Regions from separate parts of the Homo sapiens genome. Here region 2 is linked to region 1. A link means that fine-mapping ties the variant in region 1 to the expression of a gene that starts in the linked region. Tissue or cell type: subcutaneous fat. Region 1 holds a variant in brackets; the other region holds the start of a gene. All regions are shown on one strand. Distances are from middle to middle. Region 1 holds the start of SP6 (Sp6 transcription factor). Region 2 holds the start of MRPL10 (mitochondrial ribosomal protein L10).

Evidence for each region. PIP is the estimated chance that this variant, and not a neighbour inherited with it, causes the effect.
Region 2: MRPL10 starts here. The variant in region 1 is fine-mapped to the expression of MRPL10 in subcutaneous fat (GTEx, PIP 0.92).

What each region holds. Positions count from the first base shown.
Region 1 is chr17:47,849,579-47,855,055 of GRCh38, forward strand. It overlaps SP6 (Sp6 transcription factor), which reads right to left and starts at 1,585. Exons shown (of 2, transcript NM_001258248.2): 1 at 1,341-1,585. RefSeq lists a silencer at 4,214-4,405. The variant T/A (reference allele first, on the strand shown) is at 3,168.
Region 2 is chr17:47,829,192-47,834,191 of GRCh38, forward strand. It overlaps MRPL10 (mitochondrial ribosomal protein L10), which reads right to left and starts at 2,350. Exons shown (of 5, transcript NM_145255.4): 1 at 2,269-2,350. The coding sequence starts at 2,320. It overlaps LRRC46 (leucine rich repeat containing 46), which reads left to right and starts at 2,479. Exons shown (of 8, transcript NM_033413.4): 1 at 2,479-2,808; 2 at 2,909-3,014. The coding sequence starts at 2,799. RefSeq lists enhancers at 932-1,763, 1,764-2,593 and silencers at 2,056-2,115, 2,356-2,515.

The sequences.
Region 1 (5,477 bases):
ATCTTCTTATTTTGAAGAGAAGGAAGCAGACTGAATGACTTGGCACAGTGACTTGGACAAGGATGTTCATTTATTCATTCAATAAACCAGGTCTCCTAACTCCTGGACTCTCAGTCTGTTACTTTCTGTAAACCAATCTTTCTGTAGACCCTTAGAACGCTAAAGACCCCCAACGCTTTCTCAACCACATATCTGTGGCTTGAAGTTCACTCTTTTCTCACCACCTCTCCCTAAGGCCTGGAAGCCCTGGTGCCTCAGCTGGGCAGGTTTGTGTGCCTGGGTCTTCTCTACTGGTGGGGGAGGAGACCAGTGACTTAGGGCAGGATTGTTTCCTTCCTACAGCAGGGCTTAGCTGACCCTACCATCTCCTGCCTCTGGGACCAGGGAGGTGGCACTGATAGCCTGGGAGAGGGAGGGAGAGGAGGACGGGGGCACCTACTCAGGCTCCGGCTGCCTCACCACAAGAGGAAAACAGGGTGAAGTTGCAGGAAAGGAGCCCCAGGCCGGGGTGGGGCAGCACAGAAGGGGCTGAGCGGGAGCTGTGAAGCCAGGGACCCTAACAGCTTTTGGTGCCTGGGAACTGCCCCAGGGGCTGGAGGATGGGAAGGCTAGGATAATCTGGGCTCCAGAGTGGCTTCTCCTGGCAGAGAGCTGGAGAGCCCAGGCCTGGGATGCAATGGCCTGCTACCAAGATTTCAGAAACCCAAAGCGGGGTGATTCTCAGGTTCTAAGACCAGTCCCACTGGGTGGAAAACTGCCCTGGAGCTGGCTCAGTCTAGCAGAAGATGCAAGACTAAGACCCAGGAGAATAGAGGAGGGGGCAGGTCTTGGGGGTGATATGGAGCCACCCTTAGGTGGCAACCCTTAGGTTGCCTCTATGGTCCTTGACCCACCTGCCCCAGAGCTGAGAGGAAAGAAGGGAACAGGATTGAGTGCCAAGTATGTGTCCGGTTCACTTCCAGGCCTAGAAAGAGTTCAGGAAAGGAGAGAGCACAGCGTACATCGCAGGCTTCTCGCTCCCCGAAGTGGGAAGGCAAGTCGGTGCACCCTTATGCCCCATTCGGCTCTGCCTCTCTGGATCACCGGCTAGTACTCCCAGTTCTCAATGTCCCGGTCCTCTGGTTGTCCCAGTCGCTCCAGTTGCCCCGGTTTCCAGCCTCCTCGGTCCCTCCAGTCTCTCCCGTCCGCCCAGTTTTCCCTCCATCGGGGTTCTAACCTCTCAGATCCTTTAGGACCACCCCGCTCCCAAGGCCATAGGAGGCTGGGGCGCGTTCGGAGTGCGTTTTTTCGAGACAATCTCCGTAGCGCTCACCCCTGGCCACCCCGACCCGCGCTCCTACCTCGAGGCTGCGGCGGGCTCCGGGCACGGCTGGCTGGTGCGCTACTGACGGTCGCTCATAGGCCCTGTGCGCCGGCGAGCTCTCCAGCGGTAAGGGGCAGGAGCCCAGGGCGAGCCAGACCCGGCGGCTGGCGGCAGGCGGCAGGCGGCGGAGGTGAGCGCTGGCGAGAGGGCGGAGGACGGAGGGCGGGCAGGAGCCAGCGAGCGAACAAGGCCAGCTCCGCCCGTGACTCACCCGCGCTCTCTGCCTTCATCCTCTCCCCAGCGCTGCTTTTTCCCCCGGACTCGCGGCCCCGCCCACCTCACCTGCGGCCGCCTTTAACCCTTGAGGGCTCGGCTGGACCGGAGCCCAGCCAGGGCCGCGAGGAGGGGGTGGGCGGGAGTGGGGGAGGAAAGATAACTAGGGCGTGCGCCGCCCGCTCCCTCGCTCCTCCCTGGTCCCCTCCACTCCCAGGGAGAGGGGCCCGGGTGGGGTGATTCCCAGGTTCTAAGACCCGCCCCGCCGGGTGGAAAACTGCCCTGGAGCTAGCTCGGTCTAGCAGAGGACGCAGGACTAAGACCCAGGGGGAATGGATAAGGGGGCAGGTCCTGGGGGTGAGACAGAGCCACCCTTAGGCAGCAACCCTTAGGTTGCCTCGATGGCCCTTGACCCTCTCTGAACGGACAGCCCTGCCCCGGAACTGGGAGGAAAGAAGGAAACAAGATTGAGCGCCAAGTATGTTTCCAGTTCGCCTCTAGGCCTAGGCCGTGTGAAATTTGTCTTGGCTGCCCTCCTTCGCCATTCCCCCGACCCCCGACCCCCGTCCCCTGCCCTGCCTCACCCCCCGCACCCCGCGCCGCTTCTCTCCACCACCACCCTTCCCCGTCCTTTTTTCCCTCTCCCTTCCGGGGTATCCCTCTCTGACCTTTCTGGGTGACCACCTCCTCTCCTCCCCTCTCCCAGCCTCTGCCCACCACCGGTCTCTGCTTCCCCCCTACTCTGGTCCCAGGTCCCAGCAGCTGTCACTCTGCCCCTCCCCTTAGGTAGCAACCCCAGTGCCTAAGAAATCCACCTCTCAAATTCGCCTCTCCTCGCCCTCCTGTCCTTCGGGAAATGCTCAGCCTACGCACACCCTCGCCCCCGAGCACCCGGTTCTGAAGAATGGGCAGGCGCCTGAATGGCCCTGGGAAGGGACACTTCTGGAAGGAATTGAGCTATCCCTTGCCACCATTCCTTTCTAATTCTCACCAGAATAACTAAACCCAAGGTTCTTAACTTTGGGGAGGGGTCTTGGATTCCTTTGAGAAAAATTCACATGCCCAGTGCAATATTCTGGTAAAATTTCAGCGCGCTCGCGGAGCTCACAAAAACTTCCCTCAAGATCTGGATGGGTCGACATTTCCGAGACCCGCAAAGCACCGGTGGGTAGGGAAGTTCCGTCCTCCACCCACGCATTCTTCTGCCTGGCCGCTGAGGTGGCCCCATGCTTCACTCCCATGCCGCAGTGTTGATCTCTCCATGTGACCCCTTTTTTCACAGGGGAATGCAGATTAATTTCCCTATTTCTTTCATTTTTCAGATTCGTCTCCTCTGTGCGCTTTGCCGTCGGCTTTTTAAAATTTCGTTTTCCTCTTTACAGTCGATTTCATACTTGAATTTAGGCTGATTTAATCTCGCCTCTACAGCCCCTACTCCCCCCCGCCATTGGTTTACCTGTCCTGCATGCCCGTTTGGGACACACTCAAACTGTAACTCAAAAATAGCTAAACCGAGTGCATAAGCGGGGTGAAAATCAATCCATGTGTGTATGCGTATGTGCATGGTACCCCTCAGACACGCACACGTTCT[T/A]ATCCAGAATCGACGTCGGATTCATCTGTGCATCTCCCTCTTTTCTAAGGCTCATTTCCCTCATCCGGACAACCTGGGTACACATTGGTAGGGTCTCCTGGGGGCTTAAAGGAATTGATATGCCTAAAAATGCTTAGCCCAAGGGGCCCCTGGTAAGCGCCGGGTAAATGGAAGATATCCTTGTTATAATTATTAAATAAGTCAGTTCCAGGTAAATATTGGTTGGATTAAGGTGTATGCACAAAGACCTGTGGACTAGAAGTTGACGGATTTAAATTCTAGCCCCAGCCCTGCACTTGCTAAACTGACCCTGGCAGGTCAGGTGCCTCTAAGCCTCAGTTTCTTCCTTGGTGAAATGCTGTAAAAGCAGCCACCAAGCTAGAGAAGTGACAGGTATTTGGAAGCCGGAGATGCCGCCTGACATCGGGGGATTGAGATTTCTGATCAGTCGGGGTTTGCTTTTTGCCTTCTTGTTACTTGGGGCTCTGGATGTGGATTCACAGGAACTGCTCTGGATCTTTGTGGCCATGGCTAATTTGACAATCAATCCTCTTCATCAACGCAGCTTTGTCTCCATCCATTCAGCCTACAAATCCTGGCCAGTTGGGTTTGTATCCTAGTTCACAGCTACCTCTGGAATGGAGTAGACACTCATCAGGTCCAAAACAGAGCCCCCAGTGGGGGACTCTGGTTCCTGATTTGACCTCTGGGCATTCCTGCCTCCTCCTCCAAGCTGCCTGCTGGTGCTGCATCTACTGTTCCTAAGGTGCTAAAGCCTGTGCAGGGGTCTGACTCTGGGTAGGGGACCAAGTTCCCCTCCCATTTATAGGCATCAGATTGCCTTCTCTTCCTGGCCCCTTCTGCCTTTTCCCTGGAAAGCAACAGGGATTCAGCCCGAGGATGGTAGACACTCCCTGCTACTTTCACTCTAGGCCCCCTTTAGCCCTGCCCCGATCCAACCAGACCTGTAGCCATCTGGAATTCCACCAGCAAAGACCCTCCATCTGCCTGCAGCTCATCAGCAGGAAATTCAACAACAATGCAGTTGTCTCTGGAAACTCCCAGCCATTCTGATTTCCTGCTCTGCCTAGGTTTCTGCTGCTCACTCAGGGTACTGGCACTATCTTTCCTCCAGTCCCCCTCTACTTGCAGTCCTCTGCTTCCAGCCCTTTTGGTTTCCCACTTGCTAAATGTTTTCCCACCGAATGACGGCGCATGGTCTGATGTTAACTTAATGAGCAAGGTCACCACAGCCCATTGCCCATATACTTATTGCTACTCAAAATTGAACAACACAGCCCATCACATCTCCTGTATAAACTGAGATCTGTCTTGGACTTGGGCCATTTCTGCTGCTCTTCCTCATTCTCTCAAATAAATAGTCAGATTTCCCCTGCAAGTGTCCAACCCCCATTCCTGCCACCCCTCTTCTTCTCAAGCTTCATCTATAGTCAGTGATCCACTTTGTACCTGGAGAAATCTCATTAGTCTGCGTGTTTATCACAAACGGCATTTATTTACTGAGCACCTACTATGTTCCAGATGCTTTACACAAATATCTCTAATTCTCATGGGCATGCAGCAAAGTAATTATTATTATTCCCGTTGTACAGATGAGGAAGCCAAAGATCAAAGAAGTTAAATGATCTACCCAAGATTACAGAGTTGTTAAAAGACAGAAGAAGAAACTGAGTTCAGATCTCTCAGGTTCCAAAGCCTGTATTCTGCCTACTAGTCCATCTGGCCTCAATATGGCAGAATTGATGACCCTGGAAGTCTGGCTCCCCTAGAGCCTGAAGGTGGAGGAAACAGCATTCTTAAATGAATCCCTAGATCAAAGCCATCTCCTATCTTGAGTCTAATGGACAAACTGATCCCATCTTGAATTGCTGAGACAAGTCAGACTCTACACTTGTGATCCCTTCCAAACTTCAACTGTCCTGTAGAGATTGCACTATGAGAATATCAAAGCTGGTCTAGCCCCAAATTGTCTCGTCCAAGCCCTCGTTTTACTGGTAGGGAAACCAAACCCCAAAACAGGGACGTTAGTAGCAAGTTAGAAGCAGAGCTGGGACCAGACCAGAGTCTGGTCCTGTTTTCCTCTTCTCACTCACTCCTCTCCTCCATTTCCCACTCCCACCTTCGGGCTGCACTTCCAAGCCTGCAAGCTGATGACCCTGGATGCCAACATATTCCTTATTTCCCCTCCTCTCCCCACCATACTCTCCTGATTCTTAGAAAACCAGATAGAGCCTAAAGCTGGGGTCAAATAGTTTTCTTTCATTCATCCTTTATTTCATTCAACAAACA
Region 2 (5,000 bases), 21 kb before region 1:
AGGTGGAGGTTGCAGTGAGCCGAGATCATGCCACTGCACTCTAGCCTGGGCACAGAGTAAGACTCCGTCTCAGAAAAAAAAAGAAGGAAGGAAGGAAGGAAGGAAAGAGAGAGAGAGAGAGAGAAAGAAAAAGGGGATAAGGTTAAATAAACTTTTTCTTAAAATGGTCAAACAGTAAATATTTTAAGTTTGGGGCCCATGTAATCTGTCTCTAATGCTCAACTCTGCCAAAAGCAGCCACAGACAATATTTAAAGAGACAGCAGAAACTATGTACCAATAGAATTTTATAAAACACAGTGACTGGCCCTGCCATAATACGCCAACCCCTGGTCTAATCTAGTGGCTCTCAAGGTATGCCCCACCTCCACCCCAACCAGCAACATCAGCATCATTTGAGAGCTTGTTAGAAATTTTGCTGGGTGTGGTGGCTCACGCCTGTAATCCCAACACTTTGGGAGGCCAAGGTGGGCAGCTCACTTGAGGTCAGGAATTCAAGACCAACCTGGCCAACATGGTGAAACCCCGTCTCTAACTAAACTACAAAAATTAGCCAGGCGTGGTGGCACACACCTGTAGTCCCAGCTACTCAGGTGGCTGAGCCATGAGAATTGCTTGAACCCAAGAGGCAGAGGTTGCAGTGAGCCGAGATTGTGCCATTGCACTCCGGCACTCCGGCCTGGGTGACAGAGCAAGACTGTCTCAAAAAAAAAAAAAGAAAGAAAGAAAGAAAAATAAACATAAATTCTCAGGCCCTGCCTAGACCTACTGAATCAGCAATTCTGGGGTGGAGCCTAGCAAATAGTGTTTTTTGTTTGTTTTGTTTTGTAGAGACCAGGTTTCACTATGTTACCAAGACGGGTCACAAATAGTGTTCTAACAAGCCCTCCTGGTGATGCTGACGCATGCTAAAGTTTGAAAACCACCACTCTAACCGCTGCTCTGACACCCTGTCCTATGATTTGAAGAGGAGAAAAAAATGTTACACCATTCTCACAGCTCTCAGACAAGTTTCTCTTTCCTCCTCTCTTCCTGTTTACAGATAATGCTACAGAGCACCCCACAGAAAACAAGGGAGGCACTCAAAAGCCCTGAGACAAAGTGACCACTTAATCCTCAACACAAGGGCCAAGACTAGAACTTCCCACTTTCAGTCATTTCCAAGACTGGGATGTGACCTCAGAAAAAGGTCCAGATAGAAGGCGGCTCTAACAGTCAGAGAGTATGGATATTTGCTGGGGTAAGAGGTCTTATTGCCAGCAGCCACAAAACCTAACTGTTAAGACTGCAGGCAGGCTTTGGAATCAAATTAAACTGGATTTTTTTTTTTTTTGAGATGGAGTCTCGCTCTGTTGCCCAGGCTGGAGTGCAGCAATGCGATCTCGGCCCACTGCAACCTCTGCCTCCTGGGTGTAAGCGATTCTCACGCCTCAGCCTCCTGAGTAGCGGGGACTACAGGCACGCGCCACCACACCCGGCTCATTTTTGTATTTTTAGTAGAGTTGGGGTTTCGCCATGTTGGCCAAGCTGGTCTCAAATTCTTGACCTCAGGTGTTCCCTCCGCCTCAGCCTCCCAAAGTGCTGGGATTACAAGCGTGAGCCACCGCGCCCAGCCGAAACTGGATTTTAATCTCTCTTCCGCCAATTACTAGCTGTGACCTTGGCCACCCAACTGGTCTGAACTTCAGTTGCTGCGTCTGTAAAGAGGAGATGCGAATGTCTTTCTCACAGGGTGCTTTAGATTTAAATGATTTAAAAGATTTAAATGAGCTAACACATATAAAAATAGTTATCACAGTGCCTGGCCTATATTAAGTGCTCAAATCCATTCACTAAACAAATATCTACCGCACGCTTACTAACATCCAGCACCATGCCACCTGCTGGCTATGCTGAATGAACATGGTTCTGCCCTTGCGGAGTTTAATAGAGGAAACAAGCAACTAAACAAATGCAAAATTACAGATTGCGACGGGGCTAAGGAGTCAAGGGAAGACCTGAGGTGACATTTAGACTGACACATTAAGATGGAGACATAATGCAAAGGTCTGGGCGAGGAGTGGTCCAGGCAAAAGAAACGCTGGAGACAGACAACATCTGGACGTTGTTGCTGTGATTACCAGTCGAGTCACAAGGAACTGGACGGGGTAAGGAGGCCAGCGATCTAGCTGGGGTCAGAGATTATGGGAAGAATCAGTAGTAGAGGAGGGCAGATGAGGACTAGAGAGCGGCCGCAAGACACGCCGTGAGGACCTGGGCCACTCCTTACCCGCCTGGGGCAGGAGACCCCCTCGCAGCATCCCCGCCACGGCCGCAGCCATCTCCACCGGAAGAATGGACGGAAGCCGAGTGGAGACGGAAAGAGCTAAGGATTGTGGGGTAGCGAACCCCGGGGCCGGAAGCAGTGGGCGTACCCGCCGGCTGTAGCCGTAAGACGCATGCGCTAGGCCGGGCCAACGGAGCCCGCCTTTACCTCCCCACTCGGCGTCCAGTCTCTTAGCAACGACTCCGGCTTCCTAGGAACTGCTCCTTTCTCAACCATTCCTGCCCACAACACCCCAGCTTGCTGCCAGCAAAGCCCCTCCACACCCCTCAAACTCCAGACCCTTCACATCAATTTACTGTTTTCTTCGACCTCACCCCAGCAATTTTCTCTGAATCAACCCCCTTTCCTCCTCTCCTAAGTCTCTGAGTTTCTCTCTCCTCCTGCCATCCTGAGTTCTGCCATCCTTAGGGGCCGCCAAGACCTCTCTTTTCGTTCCTCTCCCGCCTCAGACCAGCAGCCTTTTATTTTAGATCATGTCTGGAGGTGAGTAGGGAGGTGGGACGGTGGGTAGAGCAGTTGGAAAACAGCGGGGTAAGGCCTCCAAGAGTGAGGAAGTGTCACAGTTGGACTCATCTTTTCACAGGGAAGTCAGCCCAGGGTCCAGAGGAAGGGGGCGTCTGCATCACTGAAGCCCTTATCACTAAGCGGAACTTGACTTTCCCTGAAGATGGGGAACTGTCAGAGAAGATGTGAGTGCATGGGGGAGAAAAGGGGTGCTAGAAGGCTGAAACACTCAGGATGACCAGGTCCCTGACGTGTACTGATTTGTCAACTGATCTTTGTTTCTCTCCTTACTCCACACATTCAATCAGTGGTAATGCCCAGCTGATTTTCCCTTCTTCAAAATAATTCCATTTCTTTTTCACCATCCTCACTCAACTGTCTTAGATAAGGCCGTGTTCACCTCTCTCCTACACACCCACCACTTTGGGAGGCTGAGGCAGGAGGATCACTTGAGCCCAGGAGTTTGAGACCAGCCTGGGCAATAGAGACAGAATCCTATCTCTAAAAAATAAAAATAAACTAGCTGAGCATGGTGGTGCACACCTGTAGTCCTAGGTGGCTGAGACAGGAGGATCACTTGAACCCAGGTACCTGTGGCTGCAGTAAGCTATGATCATGCCATTGCATGCCAGCCTGGGCAACAGGGTGAGACCCTATTTCTAAAACAAACAAAAAGTAAAGTATTTTTAATTACTTTTTTAGAGATGGGGTCTTGCTCTGTTGGCCAGACTGGTCTTGAACTCCTCAAACAATCCTCCCACTTCAGCCTCCTGAGTAGCCAAAGTGATCCTTTTAAATAACAAATCTAATCAGGCATTCACTGATAGAAACTTCCTCCCAAATAAATCCCAATGCCTAAGCATGAGTTGACTTCTGCTTTTCAGCCTTATTTCTGGCCACTCTCCACAAGTGTACAATTTCCCACACTGTGTACTCACACCTTAGTACCTTACTACTCAGAGTATGTGTGGATGGGAGGGGGTGCAGGGGTAGGACAGCAGCATTGGCATCACAGGGGGCTTGTTAGAAGTGGAGCATCTCAGCCCCTCCACCCGATCTACTGAATTAGAATCTGCATGGGCATATTGGAGTTTCGGAAGGGCTGTATTAGCATGTACTATTCCTTCTGCTTGAAATGCCTTCTCCCCATATCCCCCCACCTTCATGGCTAATGCCTACTCATCTGTCACCTCCTCTAGGAAGCATTCCCTGATTCCTCCTACTGTGAATTTAGTGCACAGCCTATGTACTCCCTTTGTCCCCTGTACTTGCTTCTGTTATCCACTTGTCAGGGATGTTTGGCCTTATTCTTTCTTTCTTTCTTTCTTCTTCCTCTTCCTCCTTCTTTCCCTTCTTCCTCCTCCTTCTTCCTTTCCCCTGTACTTGCCTCTGTTATCCACTTGTCATAGATGTTTGGCCTTCTTCCTATTTTTTTTTTTTTTTTTTGAGACGGAGTCTCACTCTGTTGCGCAGGCTGGAGTGCAATGGTGTGATCTCGGCTCACTGCAACGTCTGCCTCCTGAGTTGAAGCGATTCTCCAGCCTCAGCCTCCCGAGTAGCTGGGACTACAGGTGTGCGCCACCACACCCGGCTAATTTTTTTTGTATTTTTAGTAGAGATGGGGTTTCACCATGTTAGCCAGGCTGGTCTTGAACTCCTGACCTCAGGCAATCCACCCACCTCGACCTCCCAAAGTGCTGGGATTACAGTGAGCCACCTCGCCCAGCCTCTTTTTTTTTTTTTTTTATGACATAGGGTCTTGCTCTGTCACCCAGGCTGAAGTGCAGTGGCATAATCATGGCACACTGCAGCCTCGACCTCCTGGGCTCGAGCGATCCTCCTGCCTCGGCCTCCCAAAGTGCTGGGAGTACAGGGTAAGCCACCATGGTCAGCCTGCCCTGCTTCTTTATTAGTGGTGGGCAGAGACTCTGTCATTTGTCTCTAGTAGGCACTCAGCAATGTTGTGGAATGAATGAATGGGTGGATGGAACAAGTGCTTTTTTCTCCATGAACGACTCAAAAGGAAGGTGAGGAAGGATCTTTCTGCAGTGTCTCATCTCTGTCCCACCCCTGCCTCCACCATCCAAGCTGGCCAGAGGAAGGTTTCTCTTGCCTCTGAATCTCTCCAGAAACCATAAGCTGCCATCCCCCAATTTCCCAGAGGGCCCTTA